4 linked regions of the Homo sapiens genome follow. Changing the gene in region 3 together with the main gene of any one other region gives a genetic interaction. Each region holds a gene or a part of one and is shown on either strand. Other genes may lie near its edges.

Evidence for each region. A genetic interaction does not mean that the proteins touch.
Region 1: changes in CDC73 (region 3) and CHEK2 are lethal when combined (synthetic lethality), as found in Homo sapiens cells (one large-scale study listed by BioGRID).
Region 2: changes in CDC73 (region 3) and TOP1 are lethal when combined (synthetic lethality), as found in Homo sapiens cells (one large-scale study listed by BioGRID).
Region 4: changes in CDC73 (region 3) and TOP2A are lethal when combined (synthetic lethality), as found in Homo sapiens cells (one large-scale study listed by BioGRID).

The regions. Positions count from the first base shown.
Region 1 is NC_000022.11:28,687,243-28,689,820, forward strand, and holds the end of CHEK2 (serine/threonine-protein kinase Chk2), read right to left. Parts: intron 1,974-2,578; coding exon 1,893-1,973; intron 745-1,892; coding exon 655-744; 3' UTR 501-654; downstream 1-500. UniProt on the Homo sapiens protein: Serine/threonine-protein kinase which is required for checkpoint-mediated cell cycle arrest, activation of DNA repair and apoptosis in response to the presence of DNA double-strand breaks.
Region 2 is NC_000020.11:41,031,822-41,035,321, reverse strand, and holds part of TOP1 (DNA topoisomerase 1), read right to left. Parts: intron 1-3,500. UniProt on the Homo sapiens protein: Releases the supercoiling and torsional tension of DNA introduced during the DNA replication and transcription by transiently cleaving and rejoining one strand of the DNA duplex.
Region 3 is NC_000001.11:193,233,531-193,237,030, forward strand, and holds part of CDC73 (parafibromin), read left to right. Parts: intron 1-2,725; coding exon 2,726-2,826; intron 2,827-3,500.
Region 4 is NC_000017.11:40,404,397-40,407,896, reverse strand, and holds part of TOP2A (DNA topoisomerase 2-alpha), read left to right. Parts: intron 1-222; coding exon 223-348; intron 349-954; coding exon 955-1,065; intron 1,066-1,207; coding exon 1,208-1,313; intron 1,314-1,403; coding exon 1,404-1,513; intron 1,514-3,013; coding exon 3,014-3,106; intron 3,107-3,405; coding exon 3,406-3,500. UniProt on the Homo sapiens protein: Key decatenating enzyme that alters DNA topology by binding to two double-stranded DNA molecules, generating a double-stranded break in one of the strands, passing the intact strand through the broken strand, and religating the broken strand.

The DNA.
Region 1 (2,578 bases), on a different chromosome or scaffold from region 3:
TCCCTTCCCTGGAACTTTCCAAGGGGCCCTTAGAATTTGTATTCAGCTCTCACAGGCTGAGACCAGGGTGACATCCTGGGAAACCTGCCTAGTGATAGCCAAGGTGTAGCTCCAGATGAAAGGCACACAACTTTAAATATAAAAAAGCCATTCAGGCTAGGCTCAGTGGCTCATGCGTGTAATCCCAGCACTTTAAGAGACTGAGGCAGACAGATCACCTGAGGTCAGAAGTTCAAGACCAGGCTGGCCAACATGGCAAAACCCTGTCTCTACAAAATATATAAAAATTAACAGGCATGGTGGTGCATACCTGTAATCCCAGCTACTCAGGAGGCTGAGGCACAAGAATCGCTTGAACCTGGGAAGCAGAGGTTGCAGTGAGCCAAGCCTGCACCACTGCACTTCATTCAGGCTGGGCAACAGAGTGAGACTCCATCTCAAATAAATAAATAATAAAGCCATTCAACTAAAGAACCGATTATCAAGCAGAAGCACAAAGCCCAGGTTCCATCAGGTTTTTAATTGTACATCAGTGACTGTGAAAAAGCAATTATTCCCATAATTAAAATACAAACTATAAAAAAACAGACTCAAAGAAAAGAAAGATGACAGAGTGAAAGAAGGTACATTTCTTTCGTGTTCAAACCACGGAGTTCACAACACAGCAGCACACACAGCTGGGCGCTTTGTGGTCTCGGCACCCTCGGCTTCCCCTTCACGGGGCCGCTTTCGACTAGTAGAAGGCTGAAAATAAAGGAAAATGGAGAAATGTTCAAAAGAAAATCACTGGCTTCTTTAAGATTATCAAAGTTCCTCAATATGCTTCCAGTAAAGTGGGGGCATTTGATGTGAAATTCTAGAACCAAAAATTACTGGTTGTCATCATTGACAACTGAGTCCTCACCACAGCCCCCAACTCAGACATGCTTATCTAATAGATATTTCTCTCCCTTATGGCTTCTGACCTCTGAACGATGTATACTGAAAGCAAGTAGCATAACCAACTTCCTCTTGATCGTCCTCTTCTAAATATCAAGTTTAAAAGGACTATAATACCTCTCAGTTGAAGCCCCAAGTCTTGGTCTTTTGCGGGAAGACAACCTTTGTGCCTTAGTTGTTTTCCCATATATAAAATTGGGAGGAAGGCTGGGTGCGGTGACTCACAGCTGTAATCCCAGCACTTTGGAAAGCCGAGGTGGGCAGGTCGCTTCAGGTCAAAAGTTCGAGACAAGCCTGACCAACATGGCAAAACCCCATCTCACCTAAAAATTCAAAAATTAGCTGGGCACAGTGGCGGACACCTGTAATCCCAGATACTCGGGAGACTGAGGCAGGAGAACTGCTTGAACCCAGGAGGCAGAGGTTGCAGTGAGCTGAGATTGCACCACTGCACTCCGGCCTGAGTGACAAACCAAGACTCTGTCTCAAGAAAAAAAAAATTGGGGGGAGGAAACAGTGGGAAAAAGGACAGCTACCATTCAACAACAACAACAACAACAAAAAAGCAGGACTGGAATTAACTTATACTCACAAAGAACTTTAAAGAATAAAATTGTAATCAAGGAATCAACTACTGACCCAAATTTTAATTTGTTCAACAAATTTATATTTGAGCCTCTAATAGAGTCTTTCGAAATTGCCTTGCAGGTGACCTTTTGGATGACAATCCCTAGCTGTGCTTATCGGTCTATTATGTGTTAGATATTAAACATATCCTGCATTTTTAAATCTAAGGGTGCTGGAGCGAATCAAGTTAAAACAGAGTTTCTACTACATTATAACTGAAACAATGTTAAGCAATTGCTACTCAGGAAAATCTTGAATTTCATCATCTTTGCTTATCAGCTCCTTAAGCCCAGACTACATTTAGTGATCATCAGGAATACGAATACCTGGGCTAGAACCTGGGGTAGAGCTGTGGATTCATTTTCCTCAGACAGAAGATCTTGAAACTTTCTCTTCATGTCTTCATCCTGTGAGGGAATTAAAAACATAAGTAGCTGTGTCTGAAGGATAATAAACTCCTAGAATGACAGGGCTAGCATGCCCCTGTGGAAAGAGGGAGGAAAAATGTCCGTCCAAGAATCATCCCCTTGATGAAGCTCCCACAGCGAAGGCATTATGTGTTGCCCGCCTCTACCTTCCCAGAGGAGTCTAATTAGCAGTCAATGCTCCATCAATCCTGGCTGACTCACATCCACATGCCTAAAAGCTCTCAGTGGGTCAATCACAGCCTCCAGCAGTCAAGAGTTTCTTAATTAGTATCCAAGATCCTGAGAAAGGTGGCAATCAGGAGGCCAGAGGCTGGGCCTGACTCCGTGCAGCTCCTCAAATCCTTCCCGGACCACTCTCCACCTGCTGCCCCTGCCATGAATGAGGCCAGTCACCCAGACTGTCCTAACAACCAGCCCAGCACCCTAGGAAAATTCACCCAGCAGATGCCATACAAATTTTCAGAAGTACTTAAGCCCACAGTATCCCAGAGCTCAGGTCTAATGAGAAAGGGAGACAATAAACAGAACCAAGTATTTTGTTTCTGCTGCAGGAGCGGGAGGTGAGGGGTTTCATGCTGCAGGAG
Region 2 (3,500 bases), on a different chromosome or scaffold from region 3:
ATGGGAAGGGTAGAAGGGAGATGGTAAATTAAAACATTTATTACACATTTCAGAAAAATTTAGCAGACAGGTAAGTGAGTGAAACTAGAAGCTTAAGACAACAAATGAAAAATGAATACCTACCAAAAAGAAATTAAGGGTCAGGCACAGTGGCTCATGCCCAGCACTTTGAGAGGCTGAGGTGGGCAGGCTGCTTGAGCCCAGGGGTTCAAGACCAGCCTGGGCAACATGGCGAGAAACCTCGTCTCTACAAAAAATGCAAAAATTAGCCCGGCGTGGTGACATGCACCTGTAGTTCCAGCTACTTGGGAGGGTGAGGTAGGAGGATCGCTTGAGCCCAGGAGGCAGAGGTTGCAGTGAGCTGCAATCACACTACTGCGCTCCAGCCCGGGCAACAAACAGAAACCCTGTCTGCCCCCCACCCCGCCCAAAAAAAAAGTAAAGGAAAGAAGTTAAAATTAAAAGTTGCCTACCTTCCTTGGAATTTCTTTCTTACTAAACGTTAAGAGACATAAATGACACACATAAAGACAGTTAATACAAACTTCGATACAGATAGCCAAAGTTGATATTACGATCTATATACTCCAGAGATATGCATGAGATACCAGTAACATCACTTCTCTCCCAGTGTGAAAAATATCTAGGATCTTTCCTATACACACAGAAAATGTTCAACAATATCTATTTACTATTAAATCATTTCAGCAAACTATCAGCCATTTCTCATAACGCCACCAAAATACCATCAATATCTAACAGACATTCCTCTACAAGCTTCCCCGCAACCCCCAATCAAACTTTGTCCACCCTGCCCTCATTTACATCCCTCTCCACCCTTCCCAGGCCCTATGCTATCAACACAGCACATACTGTCCACATCTAGATAGGCAGGTGGCAGGGAGGGTGGGGGTTGGCAAAATGCTAATTATTCCAACCCTGGCCTCTATTTTAGATTTTCTACTGCAGCTATTGGCCTGGAGCCATGGGGATGGAAAGCTGCTGCTCAAACTTGAGATGTATGAGGCATGGAAATAGGGAGAAAAGACAGTTCCAAATATTACTACTCGAAGTTTAAACACAATCTGAAAGCTTCCTTTAAACACAATACCCATTCGCCTCTTAAGGACTAGTTTGGAAGTCTCTAAACTTTTTACCTTAAGAAATCCATGTGTCAACTGTTTGCCTAAATGCCCTTATTATCCAAAGTTAATGGTTTCAAAATAATTAAGGGATAGTCAGATAATCTAAACCATACAACACAGAAAATTCACTCAACTGACTCTCACCTCCACATCCAATATATTTTACTATTCTTTCAATAGGGTTTTTTTTTTTAAACCTCCAGGTCCAATGTCAAAATACTCATTTCAAACATTTCCACAGCTTCATTCAAACTAATTACATTTGAATTCATTTTCCCAAGCAAACACAGTTTACTGGAGTTCGACACAGTTTCACATGGGAAAGATGCAATCCCTCACAAAACACACTTCTGAGGAAACGACTTTGGATTTGAAGAATATCAGTTTTACTTTGCACTAAAAAGATGGCAAAAGGCAAAAGTTGATAATGATGTGTCATATAAATATGCATTCATGTCCAACTAATATGAAATAACATGGTTTTAGTATAATCTGAAACTTCTAAAATGATATGTATTCAGAAAGCACAACAGAATCATTTTCCATACCATTAGCAGCAGGGACAACTGTTACTATATAATTAATATACAACAAAGCTGTATATTAGAAGGCAAACATTTTTTTGCACCTCCCCACCCCACACATGCACTGAAAACAAGCAAAACAAAAAAACCTCACAGCCCAATTTTGGAATATAAACTTTAAGACATGTTATTTAATAATCTGAACAAACTAATGAATGTCTTTCCAACTCTCTCAATTCCCCATCTTTATGCTGACAGCAAGGGGAAAAAGTCAGACTCAATTCCTTTTTTTTTTTTTTTTTTTTGCTGCTATTGGTTAAAATGAGATTTGGGGACTGACCTTGGTTTCCTATTTTCCATTTTACTCTATCTACTGAACCAAAGAAAAGCAGGAGTTGGTGACCGTTACTGCTAGCTATATTATTTAGTTTGCACCTTTCAAGCCACAACGTATTTCTGATTCTTTTAGTGATGCCTGGATTTTCTTGTTTTTACTAGAAACATCCAATCCGAGCCTAAAATTTGTTTGTGAGATCTGATATGCTGGTAAACTAAAAAAACACATATTGACAAGCAACTTTCTTTTATGTCAAAGCATAGTATAAAAATCCTAGCGGCTCACTAATTCTAAAAAGGTGCCTCAAGGAGTCCAGTTGCAATGTAAGGGAAGAAAACCACCCTGGAGCATAATGCTTAAGTATTTCCTGATTGAGTCTGAGGATGCTGCAGATTTCATTTGGCGGTACCATCACTTTTCAGTTTTAAAAATGTAGTGGCAATTTTCAGATAGCCACATCATCAGCTATCTGAAATTCCCCCACCGCAATCAGCTATGCTACCGCCCATCCCAACCCATACCCAACAGACAGAAGTACAACTATCTATTAGCATCAGAAACAATTCATATTTAATTACCTTCATCCAATTTGATTCCATTAAGCCAACCAGAATCAGCACAAGATGATGTCAAACCATGATCCTATATATCACTTCTTAGACTAAAGACTGATGGAGCCAAGTATTGTGCTTTGCTAAGGGGGTCAAATGGGGGAGAACTCCCTATCTCCATAGCAGACAGGCAAAAACTTCAAGACCTCTGAAACAGCAGAAGAATCGCTAACACTTTAACCTGGTATTACCATTATCAATTCTACAGATAGCTACGCAGCCTGTACAGTACTGTAATAATGACTCAGCCCCACTACAGTTAGTTCTACCAATACTTAGGAAGTCTTTTCACTTAGACTTAGATATGGTTTCTGCTCCAAATTCCTAACTCACTGTCAACATTTTAAATATAAATAACAGAGTCTCCCAGCAGTTGAGTATGGGTCAGAATGTTCTAAATTACATGCAAAGAGCTACAATTTTAAATATTGCGAAGAATGAGCTCCAAAGTGGGGGGACGGGGGGGAATCTTTTATATCTTAGGGGATGAGGGCAGGCAAAATGAGAGACGTTTGATTTTAATATATGAACTTGTACAGTTAATCTGTAAGATGGGTTAGGCCCTCTTAAAATCACGCTTAAACAATCTCTTAATACAAAGTTCAATAATGACATGTCTGGGCATAATTAAACATTGATTTCTACTTTTTTTAAAGTTTTTTTCATAGTTACATAAATCAATCACTGGTTAACAATGTATTACTTGAGATAGCAAGCATAGTTACCAACACCACATCTTCCAGACAATATTCACAAAGAATAATTACACCAATGTCAGAACTTTATGGTGGCAGATTCTCTTCAAAAAGCATGTTTAGATAAAAAGCAAATGACAAATTATCAAATCCTTCCTTCTCTCCTTTTTCAGCTCTGTAAGAAAATA
Region 3 (3,500 bases):
AATAACTTTATATTTTGGATAAGTAAACTTGATTTTACTTATAAGAAGAAACATTCCAACTTCTGGAAAACCCAGTGTAAAAAATTCTTTCCACTTGTTCATTTGTTCCGGATCAGCTTGTAGAACCCAGCAAATTAGGCTAATGTAAGGTATTCTATGTTTAGATTTTTGGTTTGGAGAATTTCAATTTTCTGGTAAGAAAAAAATGAAGGCATATTTTATTGTAAGGGAATAATGTAATAAAAATAGGAATAGCTCTTTTATCATGGTTTAACACTTTTATTGAATTTAAGTGTCCTTTAACAAAATATTAAGCTGTTTATAATATAAAGTGCCTATAAATTTAGACACACAAATTACCTTATTTCTTTAACCGGGAGTAAAAGTTGAGTATATATCCGTGATACAGAGAACGCAACACATGGCACATTAGATGAATTTACCTTTGAAGTACTTGTTAGTTTTCAGGCATTAAGAAGTCAAGGCATTGAGAATATTAATATTAAAAATTTTCTTAAGAAAATTGCAACCAGGGGGCACTGCAATTAATTAGTGTCACAGTATCTTATAGAGTAGTAGACCAGCCCCTTAAACTTATGCCTCAAGACTGGTAGGATAATTCTCTCTCTCTCTCTCTCTCTCTCTCACACACACACACACACACACACACACACACACACACACACACACATATATATATTTAAAATTTATATATTTATTTATATATATAATTTAATTATAATATATATAATATACATATTATATATATAATATAATTTAAAATATATATATATTTAAAACACACACATAAATATATATATATATATTTAAAATTATAATTCTTCTCTGGTACCTAATAGATACTTTGAGTAATATAGAAAATGAGTAAGATGAGAATTTCAGATATCAAGCTTAAAACCAAGTAGGAAAGTTATATCACTTGTATTTTATGTTTGCAGTGTATTTGCAGAAATAATACAGTGTATACAAATCTCATCACTATGCTGTAAAATACTGCTTGTGTGTATTAGTTAGGGTCTCCAGCCATTGAAGCCTCCAGCATTTTCCCTACTTCCTTATTTTCCTTTTCCTTTAATTGTCCTTCCAAGAATTCATGGGGAGTAACATTTTTATTCTGCTTCCGTGCTGATGCTATGAGACCCAGTAGAATATAAGTGACCTCTGTCCAGCAAATTCCCTTTGCTTTGGCAGGCATCTTGGGCTTTCAACTGTTGTAAGTTACATCATAAAACTGAAAGATTATTTAATAGTGTGCTGCATTGCCAAAGATGATTTTGACAGTTTGAGGCATGTATCCCATGAAAGGGGAAATTTTTTAACTTAAGATTTAATTTTAGTCTCAGAGATTTTTTTTAATTTTTTATTTTATTATTACTATACTTTAAGTTTTAGGGAGATTTTGAGCAGGTTGAGAACTTTAAGCTGGCAGTTTTTAATAGTTGTAGGTCTTTGCTTGAATAGAAGGTAACCCTGGTTTAATGTTTTTTTGTATGTCTGCAGTCGTCATTAATTGCAGTGGTTATCAAAGTGTGGTCTGCAGACCTCAGGTCATTCCTAAGACCCTTTCACAGAGTTGCAAGGTGAAAACTATTTTCATAATAATACTGAGATGGCTATTCTCATGATTTATCTGCCCTTAAATAGGAACAGTAGCATACCCAGTGCCCTAGCATAGTAATTTATTCTCCTCCTTCTCTTCTTCTCTTCTTCCTTTTCTCTGTACTTCTACCTTCCTCCTTTCTCTTCTCCAACATGCCCATGCACTTGTTTCTTCATTTATACAATGAGGTTTCTAATACAGTGAGGTCATTGGATTGTTTTGAAGATTAAATGTGTTAACATCATAAGTAACGCATAAAGTCCTTAAAATGGCACTTGACACATAGTAAATGCTCAATAAATGCTACTAATGTTAACCATTATTGCTGATAATGTTGTTGTTTTGTTCCCACCGCTTTAGTTATTGGCTTTAACTGTTTATGGCAGTACTTCTTATAATTTCTCAATTCAATTAAGTATTTTATAAAATAATGAAATTTGAGGGCCTACAAAGAAGTTTGTTCTTTCTAGGAAAACTGGGTTGTTTGGTTGGGAAAAAAATGCTTTAAAAACTACTTATAAATTTAGGGTGAATGAAACAGTTGTAAAACAATTGCAAAAATTATAAAAGTCTAAATGGTTTCTATACTCAGATTACTTCCTAAGTAATCACAAGAACTCAGATAAGGCCCTGGGACCTCGTAAAATGGTTGATGAGTTCCTATAATGTAATATTTTTAGTTAAAGTAAAATATTTAAGATGTGTTTGAATTTTAAATGATTTTTTAAACAACTTTTTTGATTAATAGTTATCAACCACTATTCCCTATTACATTGGAAAAGTGGGCCACTACTCTAATTAACAGAAGGGAACAGAAAGGGCAAACAAGATTACATACGAGTATTGTCCATTGAATTATGTTTAAAAGACTTAGGTGTAAAAACCAGATACATGAGAAGTATAGCAATCATTAATACATTCTAATGGCAATATCATATTGAAAAGGTGGTAAGTACTGTATTTGCTTCATGGAAGGATTGATAAGACTCTTTCACATGAATGTTTATGGGACTGTTGCCTAAGGGATTTATAGTAGCTAAAGCTCAAGTTTGAAATAATCTCCGTCTGTCCCCTACCTCCCCCCACCCACTTTTCTACTTGTAGGGACCGCGTTGTAGCCGTTTTTGTGCAGGGTCCTGCATGGCAGTTCAAAGGTTGGCCATGGCTTTTGCCTGATGGATCACCAGTTGATATATTTGCTAAAAGTAAGATTCTCTTTGTATTTACTGTATCCAGTATAGAAATGTTCTCACTTTATTTAAGAGAAACAGTCATATAGTTCTGCGCATATGATGTGTATGTCAAAAGATTGCTGTTAAGTAACATATGTTAATGTTTAAGCATCTGTGACATATTTTTAAAAGCTTTGTATATTAATACTTTCTGTGTAGGTATATCTGAAAGTGAATATTGCCTATCCCACAACATTACTAATTATTTTTAGATCACTTAAAAATCATTGGCCAGACACAGTGGCTCACACCTGTAATCTCAGCACTTTGGGAAGCTGAGGCAGGTGGATCACCTTAGGTCGGGAGGTCGAGACCAGCCTAACCAACATGATGAAACCCTGTCTCTACTAAAAATACAAAATTAGCCGGGCATGGTGGTGCACACCTGTAATCCCAGCTACTCGGGAGACTGAGGCAGGAGAATCGCTTGAACCCGGGAGGCGGAGGTTGCAGTGAGCCGAGATCACTTCAGCCTGGGCAACAAGAGCGAAACTCCGTCTCAATAGGAAAAAAAAATTAATACTGTTGCATGTCCATAGATTTTGATTAAAATTGATGCCAGTTTTTTTTTTTTTTTTTAGACGGAGTCTGGCTCTGTCGCCCAGGCTGGATTGCAGTGGCGCGATCTCAGCTCACTGCAAGCTCCG
Region 4 (3,500 bases), on a different chromosome or scaffold from region 3:
CCCTCATTAGGCATTTTAAAATATATTTTAGACAATTTGTGCTTATTTTGAGAAATTAGGTACATTGTAGCCTATTTTAACAGACCTTTCTGATGTAGTAAATTATAAGCTAATAGCTCAAAATACTGGAGCTCAAGAAAATCCAAGCAACATATACTGTTAAATTTCTTTGTTCTTTTCAAATTTATAAACGATGCTTTTTTTGGTATATGTCCATTTCAGATCATGGAAAATGCTGAGATTAACAATATCATCAAGATTGTGGGTCTTCAGTACAAGAAAAACTATGAAGATGAAGATTCATTGAAGACGCTTCGTTATGGGAAGATAATGATTATGACAGATCAGGTCAGATTTGTTATTAAATTTTTAGATTGTTCAACTAAATTAAGCATGTCTTAATTTAATTTCATTGTTTTTTGCCATGAAAATAAATTAGTTAAATAGGAGCTTTATTCATCATCTCTAATCAACATCTAATCAGATATGCTTATATCATATGTATGTTGCAAATACAGGTTAAGTGAGTCTGGATTTGAACAGACCTTTTTTGATTCCCATAGAAAATTTGACAAATTGCCAGTAGGTCAGTCATAATATTTTTTTATTTCTAAACAATTCTTTGTTTGTTTGAGATGGAGTTTCGCCCTTGTCGCCCAGGCTGGAGTGCAATGGTGCAATCTTGGCTCACTGCAACCTCCGCCTCATGGGTTCAAGCGATTCTCCTGCCTCAGCCTCCCGAGTAGCTGGGATTGCAGGCGGATGCCACCACACCCAACTAATTTTTGTATTTTTAGTGGAGACAGGGTTTCACCATGTTGGCCAGGCTGGTCTCGAACGCCTGACCTCAGGCGATCCGCCTGCCTCGGCCTCCCAAAGTTCTGGGATTACAGATGTTAGCTACCACGCCCAGCCTAACAGTTCTTTTGAACTTTGGCTTTCAAATCTTTCTAGGACCAAGATGGTTCCCACATCAAAGGCTTGCTGATTAATTTTATCCATCACAACTGGCCCTCTCTTCTGCGACATCGTTTTCTGGAGGAATTTATCACTCCCATTGTAAAGGTACGCTAATTTCTAAGTACCATCATGGATATTTTAAGACCCTACTCCTCAAACCTGGATATACATATAAGCCCCGTCACATGTAGTGGTATACAGGGGACCCCACAGTGTACAAAGCCACAGTCATTGTTTTTTATCACAGGTATCTAAAAACAAGCAAGAAATGGCATTTTACAGCCTTCCTGAATTTGAAGAGTGGAAGAGTTCTACTCCAAATCATAAAAAATGGAAAGTCAAATATTACAAAGGTTTGTAATGAAACCCATATAGAACTTCTCATTTTATTATACACCCTGTACAAGACTATATGAAGGAACTTGGTATTTTTGGTTTTATAGGTTTGGGCACCAGCACATCAAAGGAAGCTAAAGAATACTTTGCAGATATGAAAAGACATCGTATCCAGTTCAAATATTCTGGTCCTGAAGATGATGCTGCTATCAGCCTGGTAGGTTTGAGTTGTATTTTATATACATTCTAATTTTAGAAATCACTACTTTAGCCAGTTGAAACATTTACATTTTTGTATAAGACTCCGTATCAAAAAAAAAAGAATGTTTTATAGAATAGAATGTTTCCAGTAAGCATATCCCAGAGAAGGAATCAGATATTTTAGAAAATTTTGATTTTTGGCTGGGCTTGGTGGCTCATGCCTATAATTCTAGGACTTTGGGAGGCCAAGGCAGGTGGATCACCTGAGATCAAGAGTTGGAGACCAACCTGTCCAACATGGTGAAACCCCCTCTCTACTAAAAATACGAAAATTGGCCGAGCGTAGTGGCTCACGCCTGTAATCCCAGCACTTTGGGAGGCAGAGGCGAGCAGATCACAAGGTCAGGAGATCAAGACCATCCTGGCTAACAAGGTGAAACCCCATCTCTGCTAAAAATACAAAAAATTAGCCGGCCGTGGTGGCACGCAGCTATAGTCCCAGCTACTTGGGAAGCTGAGGCAGGAGAATCGCTTGAACCCGAGAGGCAGAGGTTGCAGTGAGCCGAGATCAGGCCACTGCTCTCCAGCCTGGGCAACAGAGTGAGACTCCATCTCAAAAAAAAAGGAAAAAGGCCAGGCGTGGTGGCTCACGCCTGTAATGCCAGTACTTTGGAAGGCTAAGTCGGGCAGATCACAACGTCATGAGATGGAGACCATCCTGGCTAACACGGTGAAACCCCGTCTCTACTAAAAATAAAAAAAAATAAAAAATAAAAAATTAGCCGGGCTTGGTGACACGCGCCTGTAATCCCAGCTACTCCGGAGGCTGAGGCAGGAGAATGGCGTGAACCCAGGAGGCGGAGCTTGCAGTGAGCTGAGATGGTGCCACTGCACTCCAGCCTGGGCGACAGAGCGAGACTCTGTCTCAAAAAAAAAAAAAAACAAAAAAGGTCGGGCGCAGTGGCTCACACCAGTAATCATAGCACTTTGGGAGGCCGAGGCGGGTGGATCACCTGAGCTCGGGAGTTCAAGACCAGCCTGACCAACATGGTGAAACCCCATCTCTACTAAAAATACAAAATATTAGCTGGGTGTGGTGGCACGTGCCTGTAATCCCAGCTACACGGGAGGCTGAGGCAGGAGAATCACTTGAACTTGGGAAGTGGAGGTTGTGGGAGCCGAAATCGTGCCATCACATTCCACAAGAGTGAAACTCCATTTCAAAAAAAAAAAAATACAAAAATTAGCTGGGCGTGGTGGCGGGCGCCTTTAATCCCAGGGGCTCAGGAGGCTGAGGCAGGAGAATCGCTTGAACCTAGGACGCAGAGGTTGCAGTGAGCCAAGATGACACCATTGCACTCCAGGCTGGGCAAGAGAACAGTAACTCCCGTCTCAAAAAAAAAAAAAAAGGAAAACAGTATTTTTGTTTTTCTGTTGTTCGTTCTTTGTAGAAGGATATTTTGGAACCTATTAGCCTATTAGTACCAGTGACATCTTTTCATCCTTTAATTTATAGGCCTTTAGCAAAAAACAGATAGATGATCGAAAGGAATGGTTAACTAATTTCATGGAGGATAGAAGACAACGAAAGTTACTTGGGCTTCCTGAGGTAAAAGTTTTAAATATATGCCACAAAATGGATTGTTAGACTGACCTTTTGGTATTGATACTATAGCAAATTAAACTTACTGAATAGTTATTTTAGTAAAAAATTTGATATGATAGAGTTGTGCAGCAGTTAAATTTGCTTTATCTTTAAAACATATAAAATATTTCTGTATTATTCAATATTTTTTAAAGACTTAAGAATTACAGAAATAATTCTTAGTTCTGAAAGGTTTCTGTTTGATTTTTGTGTTGAGCATTGTTTAGACCGGTAGACTCATGTAATACTATTTGGTCCTTCAGGATTACTTGTATGGACAAACTACCACATATCTGACATATAATGACTTCATCAACAAGGAACTTATCTTGTTCTCAAATTCTGATAACGAGAGATC